2 linked regions of the Homo sapiens genome follow. The protein of the gene in region 1 purifies or fractionates together with the protein of each later gene. This does not show direct contact. Each region holds a gene or a part of one and is shown in the gene's direction. Other genes may lie near its edges.

Region 1 (5,180 bases):
AAATTAGCCAGGCGTGGTGGCAGGTGTCTGTAGTCCCAACTACTTGGGAGGCTGAGGCAGAGAATTGCTTGAACCTGGGAGGCGGAGTTTGCAGTGAGCTGAGATCATACCACTGCACTCCAGCCTAGGCGACAGATCAAGACTCCGTCTCAAGAAAAAAAAAAAAAAAAAACCCTCTGACTCTAAGATCCCCAAACACTGTGATCCTGAGTTGTTAAAGCAAATGCAAATAGCCAGACTTGCCAGATGCAGGCTGTGTGCCAGCAGGACCAGCTATGTAACCTGCAGGGCCCCTTGTTCAGATTTCAAGATGGCGACCACAGAGCATTAAACAAAGCACAGGGTGCCACATAACCACATAGGTCACACGCCCATGAAGCCAGCCCTGGAGGCCAGGCACTGTTTCTGAGCGCTTTGCTGGTGGTAATTTATTTCTCATGATGCGAATGTACAGATGAGGAATATTGAGGCCAGGGGGGTTTAGGTGACTTTCCCAAGGTCACAGTTGGGTGGTAAAGAGCCCTATTCAACCCCAGTTCATGGTCCCAGCATCAGTGGCCACATACGACATCCGCACCTGTGCTCTAATAAATACGGCTCATGCTGTTTTGTGGGATTCCACCTCAGACTGGAATTTAGAAGAGGGCGTCCTTGCTTTGAAAAACACTGATTTAAAAATAAAGTGGAGCCAGGCGCAGTGGCTCATGCCTGTAATCCCAGCACTTTGGGAGGCTGAAGCGGGTGGATCACATGAGGTCAGGAGTTCGAGACCAGCCTGGCTAACATGGTGAAACCCCATCTCTACCAAAAATACAAAAATTAGCTGGGCGTAGTGACGGGCACCTGTAGTCCCAGCTACTCGGGAGGCTGAGGCAGAAGACTTGCTTGAATCTGGGAGGTGGGGGTTGCAGTGAGCCGAGATTGCACCACTGCACTCCAGCCTGGGCGACAGAGCAAGACTCAGTATCAAAAAAAATAAAAAACATAAAATAGAAAGTAAAAAGTGGGAAGTTTAAGCCTCTGGGTCACCAGCCTCTCCCCCTCACCCAGGCATCATCCGACAAGGGCTCCTGCTGCATCGTAGCTGCTGGCAGCCAAGGCCCTGTCGTCCCAGCCTGGTCTGGCCCCCGGGAGGCCCCTGACAGCCTGTTTGCTGTCCGGAGGCACCTGTGGGGTAGCCATGGAAACAGCACATTCCCAGGTAAGAATGGTCCTTGCACTACACGGTGCCCCCAAGCTCCTAATCCTGACAGGCTCTGGGTGGAGGGTGCAAAGGAGCTCCATGCTGCCCCTTCCCACCACCACCACCACTGCAGCTGCCGCCACTCAGCCTTTGGGAAAATGCATCCGCTCACAAAAGCTTCCTTTCGGGATGTCCGTGGCCTGAAAGCCCCCCATATGGTCTCGAGTGTCGGGCCCCTAGCCCTGACTCCCTTGGGGATTGGGGCCATGCCTCACCCACTCTGGACTCCAGCTACTATATTCGGCCATCAGAAGGGAGGGACCCTGCTAAGTAATTCCAGGAGCACCTCCTTTCCTCCCCTGACCAAGGAAAATCGGGGTGGATTCGCCCGAGCTCACCTATCCACTGCTCTCCACCAGGCCTGGCCTGTGGGCTTAGCAGGGATCAGAGACCTTGACTGTCATCCTGGCTCTGCCATTTAACCTCTTGCATCCTTTGGTGTGCAAGTTACTCCGCTTCTTTTCAACCTCGGGGAGAACTATTTTGGCAGAAGTGGTGCAAAGAATAAATGATACAACTTATGTCAGGTGCTCAGCAAACAGTACCTGTGCCCGTGGACACGGGTGTTGACGGTGAGATCTCAGGCCTGTAGACTCACCTTGTAGGGGGAGGGGACAGGGAGCTAGCTAGGAGGTCCTGCATGGGGCTTGATTCATCCCCACCCTCTGACAGAGTTCCTCCACAACATGGACTACTTCAAGTTCCACAACATGCGACCCCCTTTCACCTACGCCACGCTCATCCGCTGGGTAAGCAGGGCAGCTCGGCCCCAAGGAGGAGGAAGACAAAGATGGGGTGGGGGACCTGCCTCCCAAACTCCTGTCTCCCTCTGAGTGCCCTCAGAGTGGGTTCCTCCATTCCCAAGCCCCAGCCCCAAGGATCCCCAAGCCGTGCCTCAAATGTGACCCCTCATGCTGGCTTCACCCCAAACCTGTCCGCAAATCCAAACCTAAACCACCATCCAGGCCAGAGCATGCCAAATTCTGACCCTAAACCTACCCCTTTCCAGATGTCCACCTCAGCCCCATACCTAACCCTCTCCTGGACCCATAAAATAGCCTAAAGCTAACCCCATCTCTGCACCTTGCCCTAAACGTACCCCAGCTCTTACTCTAACTCCTTCCCCAGCCTTTATGCCAACCCAACCCCATCTCCTTCCCTGGCCCCAACGTACCCCAGTATGTCAATACACCCCCAACTGGGCACCATTCCCAACCTTTCCTTGTAACACCCATTTGATCCTTAACTTCATCACCCCATCCCAACTCCTTCATCTCAGCCTCCCCAATGCCTTCTCAGAACCTTCATCCTAGCGCCACACCTAACCCCAAACCTGAACCTCACCCCTACATGATACCAGATATTCCCCGACTGTCTCTGAACTGAAACCCTGACCTAGCCCCATCCTGACTGATAGCCTCACTGCAATCATCATCGCTGACTCTGTAATCCCATTCCTGAATCCAAACTGATCAAATTCCCTGACCCTCAGCCTCACTCCACACCGAACCCCACAACTAACCTCATCCTTGCCCTGAGCCTAACCACCTAACCATGTCCCTGACACGTAAGATACTCGATAATTCAAACCATCTCTGGCTTCTGACCTAAAGCCAAGTCATCCCATCCCTCACCCCTAGACCCCCCACCTGAGTCCACCCCAGCCTGACTCTTAACCCACCCCTTCCCTGACCCTTAAGTTGGCCTGGCCCTTTACCCCTTCCAAATCCTTGACCCCACTTCTGACCCTTCACCTTCCCCAACCCTGAAATGTCACCTCCACAGAGAACCCCAACTCCAACTCCATCCCAGACCTTTCACCTCACTTCAGCCCTAGCCCTGAACAAGACCCCACTCCCAACCTCAGTCCTGATCCCTTACCTAATCCCAGAACAACCATACCCACACCCATCTAACCCTGCCCAACCCGACACTTCACCCCTTTTCTAACCCCATCTTTGACCCCATGCTTCACCCCACATCTAGTCCTGTCCCTGATTACCTGCCCCTACAATTCCGCCCCCATGTCAGATGGCTCGGGGTAGGTCATAGCCCCTCTAAACCCCAAGTTTGGGGAATGTGCCCCTTACCCCACCCCCCAACTTCCAGGCCATCCTGGAGGCTCCAGAGAAGCAGCGGACACTCAATGAGATCTACCACTGGTTCACACGCATGTTTGCCTTCTTCAGAAACCATCCTGCCACCTGGAAGGTGAGCTCCTCTGAGGTGGCGGTGACTGGGATGGCCTCAAGTGCCATCGCAGCTCAAAGTGGGCAGGCCTGGGTCTGGGCTCATAGGCACATTGGGGAGGAACGGGATGTGGGTTGTTGGTGGTGGCTGCTGGCCTCAGAGGTTGACGCCCACCTGCTCCCTGTCCCCGGCCTTCCACAGAACGCCATCCGCCACAACCTGAGTCTGCACAAGTGCTTTGTGCGGGTGGAGAGCGAGAAGGGGGCTGTGTGGACCGTGGATGAGCTGGAGTTCCGCAAGAAACGGAGCCAGAGGCCCAGCAGGTGTTCCAACCCTACACCTGGCCCCTGACCTCAAGATCAAGGAAAGGAGGATGGACGAACAGGGGCCAAACTGGTGGGAGGCAGAGGTGGTGGGGGCAGGGATGATAGGCCCTGGATGTGCCCACAGGGACCAAGAAGTGAGGTTTCCACTGTCTTGCCTGCCAGGGCCCCTGTTCCCCCGCTGGCAGCCACCCCCTCCCCCATCATATCCTTTGCCCCAAGGCTGCTCAGAGGGGCCCCGGTCCTGGCCCCAGCCCCCACCTCCGCCCCAGACACACCCCCCAGTCGAGCCCTGCAGCCAAACAGAGCCTTCACAACCAGCCACACAGAGCCTGCCTCAGCTGCTCGCACAGATTACTTCAGGGCTGGAAAAGTCACACAGACACACAAAATGTCACAATCCTGTCCCTCACTCAACACAAACCCCAAAACACAGAGAGCCTGCCTCAGTACACTCAAACAACCTCAAAGCTGCATCATCACACAATCACACACAAGCACAGCCCTGACAACCCACACACCCCAAGGCACGCACCCACAGCCAGCCTCAGGGCCCACAGGGGCACTGTCAACACAGGGGTGTGCCCAGAGGCCTACACAGAAGCAGCGTCAGTACCCTCAGGATCTGAGGTCCCAACACGTGCTCGCTCACACACACGGCCTGTTAGAATTCACCTGTGTATCTCACGCATATGCACACGCACAGCCCCCCAGTGGGTCTCTTGAGTCCCGTGCAGACACACACAGCCACACACACTGCCTTGCCAAAAATACCCCGTGTCTCCCCTGCCACTCACCTCACTCCCATTCCCTGAGCCCTGATCCATGCCTCAGCTTAGACTGCAGAGGAACTACTCATTTATTTGGGATCCAAGGCCCCCAACCCACAGTACCGTCCCCAATAAACTGCAGCCGAGCTCCCCACATGCTGGACTATCACCCCATATAAGGGTTGCGGTCAGTGGGCAGGGGTCTGGGTCCAAGGCCGCAGCAGGAGGAACTGGACAGCGGAGGAAGTAGCTAGGGCATGTGCTTGGCCACTGCCTCCAGCACCCCAAATCCCTGCCTGAGGCTGGGGAGAGACCTCTGCCGGCGGCTCCTCAGGCCTCCCGGACCCGGCCTAGGAGGCCAGCGTTCTCCTGGCGGAGGGCTCGGTAGTCCTCCCGGATCTTCTCCAGGTTGCTGAGGGTCTTCTTGCCCAGCTCTGTCTCGATCTGAGGCAATGTGAACACATGCCCCCTCAGCACACACAGCCCCTTTCCCAGCTCCTGCTCACCAGCCCCCATCACAGCCACTCTGGGCCCCTCCCACCAACTCCAACAGCCTGCTCTGTCCCATGGCCAGGCCTCGTGTGGTGTTCCCTCTACCCAAAGCATCCTTCGCCATGTGGCAGGATTCCCCCTACATCTTTAAGCTGAAGCCTC
Region 2 (7,432 bases), on another chromosome or scaffold:
GGTCTCAAACTCTTGGGCTCGAGTGATCCACCTACCTCAGCCTCCTAAACTGCTGGGATTACAGGCATGAGCCACCATGCCCAGCTCTGCACTGTTAGTCTTAAGCCCATTTTGGGAACTTTGCTTTCCCTTGGTCAATCTTTCCTCTTCCTTCTAGAAGCTAAAATGTCAGGTTCTCTGTGAAGCCTTCCTACTGCACTTTGTTCAGCTCCCTATTAAAATTTTATTGGATTATTTTATTAGCTCCCTGTGGCTGCTATGACAAATTACCACAAAACAGGTGTCTTAAAACAACAGAAATTTATTCTCTCATAGTTCTAGAGGCCAGAAGTCTGAAATTAGATTAACAGGCTGAAGTGAGGGTATTGGCAAAGCCACACTCCCTCCCGAGGCTCTAGGGGAAAGGTGTTCCTTGCCTCTTCCAGCTCTGGTGGCTGCCAGCATTCCTTAGCCCATCACTGTATCCCTCTCATCACTGCCTCCATAGTCACATTGCTGCCTCCTCTCCTGTCTGTGTCAAATTTCCTTCTGTCCTTCATCAGAAAACTTGCAACTGCACAGAGAACCCACCTGGATGTTCCAGGATACTCTCACTCTCTCAAGATCCTTAAAACACATTTGCAAGACCCTTTGAAGCCATTTATAGATTCCAGGGATTGGAACCTAATATCTATGAGTGCCAACATTCAGCACTTCATAACTGTTTTCATGTATGTTGGTCTTTACACCTTGGTATGACTAGGATCTATCACAGTGTAAGTACATAGTATGTCCTCAATAAGTGACATGTAGACATAGATGCAGAACTATACAGCATCTAGGCCCTTTGCTCACGTTCACTGGGATACCTTCTTTGCTAAGGCTTCATTTCCCTAGGCCAGAGCTATTTCTTTCATGTGCTAATCTGTGGTTGGAAGGATCTTTTACTCATAAATTAGATCAACTTCTAGGTTAGAGAAATTAAGCAAAGGAGTTTTCGTCCTTGTACCACTTCTCCTGAGTTTCAGTGAGGCAAAGTAACCAAAAACACTCCTTTCAAATTCCATACCTCCTACGTTATGGAGCAGAGGGCGTAGGAAAAGTGGATGGGTCCTGGCTGCTCAAAGACTTCACGGAATGTGAGATTACAGAGTGGCAGAGTGACAAGTATGGGCTTCATGAAGAGCGCTGTCATCAGTCTCCCCGGGCTGGTTTATTGCCATTCTTTGGCTGTTTATTTTAAACACAGTTTTCTTAGTAATTTAAGCTCCTAAATTCATGGCTACTGCTTCAGTGACCATTTCCCCATCTCGAGTCATTTAAGTTCATCACAGGGATTTTTCTGAAATGAGGCGGTTTCTTTTCCAGTGTTCTCAAATCACAGTCACCTCCACCCTCAAGAATAAGCCAGCACTCATCTGGAAAGATAATTCGGTAGCTATGTAATTGCTTTTTTCTCAGCTGTGGAAATCTTTCCCAATTAAAGTGGAAAAAGTTACTTGCAATAAAAAAAGTAAACAGGTAGATTACTTTGCACAATTAATCATTGAAACAGTAAACTGTCTACTGTATTGTAATTGTTTACTTCTACGTCAGTCTTTTCATCTTTTTGCTGGTTAGAGCCCCCAGAAATCAGAATGAGATTCCATGACGTTTATTCAACCTTTAAATATTTTTTCCATTCTCTCTGTGTTCCAGGAGTAGTGATAAGAGCTGGTGATGTAAGGGTAACAAAAACAGACTCATTCCCTGCCCTCATGGAGCTTGTACAGTCTGGTGGAGGATGTAAACACTAATCAGGTCATCACACAGACAAATGCAAACTGTCAGTGGTCTCACATGCCAAGGCTGTTTATATACATGTAAACAGTTATGAAGTGCTGAATGTTGGCACCCCAGCCAACCCACAATGCTGCTGGCAGATCAGTCTAAAACACTGGACTCAATGTGCCACCCCTCACTTAAACGCTTTAACTGGCTCTCCCATGGCCTCTGGGGCAGAACTCACCTCTGGAGAAGATGCTCTTCAGCTGTTCCTGCCTCATTTCCTGTCCTCTCTTCCAGATGCTCAGGGGCCCCCAACTACAAGCTCTGTGCTTTCAGGGTCTTCTGTCTTTGTACGCAGTTCTCTCTGCCCAGAAAACTCTTCTCCCCACCTCCACTTGCAAAATCCTGTCCATCCTTCAGGCTCAGCTCTAACGTTACTTGAATGTGATGCCTGTCTTGACTGTTTAGCAGGCTAAAGCTGTCACTCCCTGCCTGTACTACCACAGAACATTTTGTACAAGCCACCATAACTGCACTTATCCCAGTGAACTGTGTTTGTTTGCAGCAAAACACTGTGGTTAGGAACATGGACCTTGAATTCAGACTGACTTGGAAACCAAATTCTGCAATTTATTGTGTGGCCTTGAAAATCATTCCTTCTGGGTCTTAGTTTCCTTCCTAATTTTGGCAATGAGGGGCATAATACCTAACTCATTAGCCTGTTGTAAAGATAAACCAGATAATGTGTTTAATGATGGAGCACGATGCCTGGTCAACAATACTCAATAACTAATGGTATTATCAAACTTGAATGTGCCAAATGCAAGGACCTAGGACTACATTTTGTCCACTTTTTTTTTTTTTTTTTTTTTGAGACAGAGTTTCGCTCTTCTTGCGCAGGCTGGAGTGCAATGGTGCGATTTTGGCTCACAGCAACCTCCACCTCCCAGGTTCAAGCGATTCTCCTGCCTCAGCCTCCCGAGTAGCTGGGATTACAGGCATGCACCACCACACCTGGCTAATTTTGTATTTTTAGTAGAGATGAGGTTTCTCCATGTTGGTCAGGCTGGTCTTGAACTCTCGACCTCAGGTGATCCGCCTACCTCGGCCTCCCAAAGTGCTGGGATTACAGGCGTGAGCCACCACAGCCGGCTGATGTCCATCTTTCTATCCCAGTTGCTGGCCATAGTCAGTCGAAGTTTCTTAAAATGCATAAATGAAAATACTATCATAACTTCCTTTACTTGAAGACGGGTTAGAGGCTTATTTAGTTTGCCACTAATAAGGGCTTTTTTGTTTTCTTTTGAGACAAGGTCCTGCTCTGTCACCCAGGCTGGAGTATAATGGAGTCACCACAGCTCACTGCAACCTTGACTTCCCAGGCTCAAGCTATCCTCCCACCTCAGCACCACTTGAGAGGTGGTTAATTTCCCATAGAGACGGGGTCTTTATGTTGCCCAAGCTGGTCTCCAACTCTCCAATTCCTGGGCTCAAATGATCCTCCCACCTTGGCCTCCCACAGTGTTGGGATTACAGGGCTGAGCCACCACACCCAGCTGATAAAGACATTTTACTGAAATGCCAAAAATTCCACTGATTTTACATCTCCAATCATATTAATCCTTTCCCTTTGCTCAACCAGTCCTGAACTTACACAGGTAACTGTTTGAGGTCCTATTTTGAAGTAGTGGTTTCTGCTAAATGATCTCGTCACAATTTTAGTCTTTACTGCATGTACATCAATTCCAGTCTTTACATAATCATGTGGAACACGGATTATATTTTCCTTTCTCATATGAAAAGTAATAGCGTGCATGTGTATAGGATTTACGTTTCAGGCTTTGTGGGCTTTAAATCCTTTGACTCCTAACCCAAGTGACTTTTCTAAGATCACAGTTCGTGGGTGGTCAAGCATATTAAAACTACTGCAAACTCTAGCGCAGTGTCCTGGACACTGGCCACAGCATCGCATTATCCCCCAACAGCCTAAATTCCTTGAAGGCAAGGTTCTCTCTGGCTTCCTCTGCAACGTTCGCAGCATGCCTCAGAGACTCGGTGAGCTGGGCCGGCCAATGCATTTCCTCTTCCGTCCATGTAATTCCACTAGAGGAGCAGAGGGCAAACTACGTTCCCATTAAAGCCACAAGGTTTAAAAACCTCTAACCTTGGAAAAGCACACTTCAACCCTCTGCACACCAAACTTCTCTACTGTGGTTTCCCCTCTGCCGCTTTCTCCTTGGCGTTCCCCGATCACTGCCTCTAGGGTCTTTACAAGGGACAGCGAACGTAAGGTTTCGGAGCTGGCTTCGCCCCCTTCTATTTACCGGGGGCTGGTCATCCTTCGGGCCAGGCTGACTGTCTAGGGGTGGCCCTCGGATACCTGGTCCCCGCAGGTGACCCCCCTCCCTCCCACCGAGGAGGAGGGCGCGTCCCGCTCGCTCCGTGGAGACGCCGCGGAGGCGCACACGCCTCACGCCTCCTCGCAGAAGCCACAGGGGCTGCGGCTCTTTGTCGCGGCCACACCGGAAACGGCCCGGAGCGCGCGCGGGGCGGCCGCCGAGGGTCGCGGCGCTAGGCGGGGCCGCCGGGCCCGTCCCCCTCCCCGCGGGGGCGCGCGAGGCCCGGGCGGGGCCGCCCTCCCTTCCGGGGAGCGGGGAGCCGCCGCCGCGTCCGCCGGGCGGCTCCCACCCCGCCCCCCGCAGCTCTAGGTGACGCGTCTCCAATAACAGCTCGCCGGGAGCCGCAGCTCGGGCACAGCCGGCGGCCGCGCCCCGCCGCCACCATGAGGGCCGAGGGCCTCGGCGGCCTGGAGCGCTTCTGCAGCCCGGGCAAAGGCCGGGGGCTGCGGGCTCTGCAGCCCTTCCAGGTGGGGGACTTGCTGTTCTCCTGCCCGGCCTATGCCTACGTGCTCACGGTCAACGAGCGGGGCAACCACTGCGAGTACTGCTTCACCAGGTAGGGCGGCGGCGGCGGCGGCGGCGGGCGGGAGCCGGGGGCGCCGAGCGGGAGGCTTGGACGGCGGCGCCAGGAAGTGCGTGCGGCTCGCGGGGTCCTAGCGCCGGCCCTTGGGGCGGGGTGGGGGGCGGGGAGGGGAGGAGGCCCCGCGCTGCGGCCCCGCGCTGCAGCCCCACGCCAGGCGCCACGTGCGAGAGGAAACAGGACCGGTGCCCCGCTGCACGCCCTGCACTGCACGTTTTCAGAGTTGCTCACGCTGGATGCGCAAACCCGGGCGTGCAGGTTCCTGCCCTCAAATGTGGGCTCCGAGCCAGGCTTGTTCCAAGCCTGGGCACTCACTGCCCTCCCGGTGCATTGGCAGCGGAGCCCCAAATTTGGGCAGCCACGGGCTGTCACCTTTAACTTATGCTTCCTGCGGTGTGTTCTGTTACCCACAGTCCAGCCCTGCCTCAGATTGGCCGTTTCTTCCAAGGAATTTAATGACTTAGTATATGTCTTGTAAAGTACGCTTACATGTTAAAGTACGCTTACATGGGTGTTTGGAGGGACGCCAGTGGGCACTGACCACACCCCCTGGATTCTGAGGTGCTGCGACGATGAGTTGCAGTGTCCAGTTTCGGTTTGGGATTAGGAAAACATGGTCGCAGGAAGGGATTGGGCAAGATGTGTGGTTGCTAATGGTATTTAATTGTAAGATACCATATGTATATATGTGTCTGTGTTTGTATATATGATGCATATACATTTGCACACACCAACACATAATTATATCCTCAACTCTTATGAGAGTTTCAGAGCTTAAAGGCACATTAGAAATCACCAATTCAGTCTTGTCTTTCACTTAATGGATGAGAAAACTAAAGCCCAGAGAGAAAGTGGAGTTACCTTTATCCATTCACACCAGTAGTGAAGGGAGTGAAATCTGGCCTTATTCACTTCTGCCTATTTCTCACTGGTTAGGTGCTCAGTAAATTTACTAAGGCAGGAGGCATGGCATTGGGGTTAAGTTTATATCAGGCCTTCCAGTACTCTGAGTAGAGACCATGATTTGCTTTCTTTGAACCTCAGTTTCTTCATCTTTGAAATGGAGATTCCTGGGCTGGATTAAGCTGACCTGCGGTCCTGCAGGGACCTTTTGAGTACAGGTCTCAAGTCCAGCATACTCAATCTCTCAGACCTGTGTGCCTCATTCTACAATAAGACGTAGCAAAAGAAGGGACAAAGGCTAAATATTGTAGTAATCTTGCCCAGACTCCCTGCCAGAACTGTCTTCCGCTTGGGGGGACCTGGAAAGGAACTAGACACGGAATCATGCCGTGGGCAGCTTAAGGGCTGTATGTGATGTGGCTCTTTGAATTGGTGAGCCAAGAGCTAAAGGGTCATGGCACCACTTTGCAACGTTTGAGTGAAGTGAGCATTGGGTTTTCCCAAAGTTAAAAAGGCTGCTGTGACTGGTCCCTTGATCTTCTGAGCCTTGCTGTGGCTCGGAGTCTGCAGCAGCGTGGGTGTCTGCAGTGGCAGGAGCAAAGCAGGTCAGGCAGCACAGAAGGAGCCTCCATCAGGGATCCTGGCAATTCCTGGAAGCCATCGCCTAAGACCATGGATGCCAGGCACATAGTAGGTGCTTACTTTATATGGGTAGTTGCCAGCCCTGGCCCCCAGTGAATGAAAGATCAAATCCCTCTGGATTTAGAAGGGATGAGAAGAACTGAGAGATGCTTCTCTTTAGCTTTAAGTCTCCTAATTGTATCTACTACGCATACCCCCAACCTTAGAACATTAATGGATGGTCAGATGCAAGTTCACAAAGCATTCAGCCTGGATTATTCTGCCATATGTGACAGTTTGCTGCCTCTTTTGTTGTTAAATTTTTCTGATTGACATTTATTAGTGTTACTCACTGTTGCCTTGGGTCCCTCACCAGGGCTGCAACTTGCAATGGGGTGTTATTACAACTTGCAAACCACTTCTCTGTTTGATTTCCCTGACCTTATGTCAATACCCGTAGTTTATTTCCTCTCTCTCCCCAAAGAATTATTTGAAGTCAATTAAAATAATACAAAAGAAATAATATCCATGATACTTATGCAATTAGAAATATCCTTGTACCCTACTTCATGATTTCTATTAAATCTGAATCATTTACTATTAGTGGTTAGGTCATCTGATAGATTCAGCATCAGTTCCTCTGTCAGCAATTTGTATATGACTTAGGACAAATCAGTCTGTCCAGATGTATGAGGGGAACGTGTATTTTCCTCCATAGGGCCTCAAAGTATAGGAGTAGAATTCTGGAAATGTTCATACTTACAGGTCAAAATCTGCTGCCTGCCCCAGCTCCACACACCCAAAAGAAAGCTACCCCTTATCCTTTCTTTTGCCAGAAGTTTAACATAAACAATACTGCTTAAGATAAATGAATGACCCAAGAATTTCCATGTCATACTAATTGTATCAGGATCTAACTTTTTTTGAAGAAAAGAAAAGTGATTTCTTTAGGTAGGAATAAGTATATGCTATAAATTGAGAAATAATGGAAAATGTCTTAAGTCTCAACAGAATGGGATTCTTACGGTCAGGGCAATTCAGACAAAGGTTTGCTTTGGGGAATTTTTAATTTGTATCACATTTCTCAGTCTGGTGGGTGCCATTGGAGAACATGCGTATCTTGCCTGAACTGCTAGAAGGCAGCTCCTAATAATATTATATAAAGTTTTTCCACTTGGAAGCT

The links. Proteins that work in one complex are often made in the same cells at the same time.
Region 2: the proteins of FOXP3 (region 1) and SMYD2 purify together in Homo sapiens (affinity purification with mass spectrometry; 2 studies listed by BioGRID and IntAct, with this or other methods). This does not show direct contact.

The regions. Positions count from the first base shown.
Region 1 is NC_000023.11:49,249,938-49,255,117, reverse strand, and holds the end of FOXP3 (forkhead box protein P3), read left to right. Parts: intron 1-1,050; coding exon 1,051-1,201; intron 1,202-1,915; coding exon 1,916-1,992; intron 1,993-3,352; coding exon 3,353-3,454; intron 3,455-3,634; coding exon 3,635-3,784; 3' UTR 3,785-4,680; downstream 4,681-5,180. Other genes in the region: CCDC22 (coiled-coil domain-containing protein 22), read right to left, coding at 4,857-4,970. UniProt on the Homo sapiens protein: Transcriptional regulator which is crucial for the development and inhibitory function of regulatory T-cells (Treg).
Region 2 is NC_000001.11:214,276,727-214,284,158, forward strand, and holds the start of SMYD2 (N-lysine methyltransferase SMYD2), read left to right. Parts: upstream 1-4,432; 5' UTR 4,433-4,528; coding exon 4,529-4,701; intron 4,702-7,432. UniProt on the Homo sapiens protein: Protein-lysine N-methyltransferase that methylates both histones and non-histone proteins, including p53/TP53 and RB1. Specifically trimethylates histone H3 'Lys-4' (H3K4me3) in vivo. The activity requires interaction with HSP90alpha.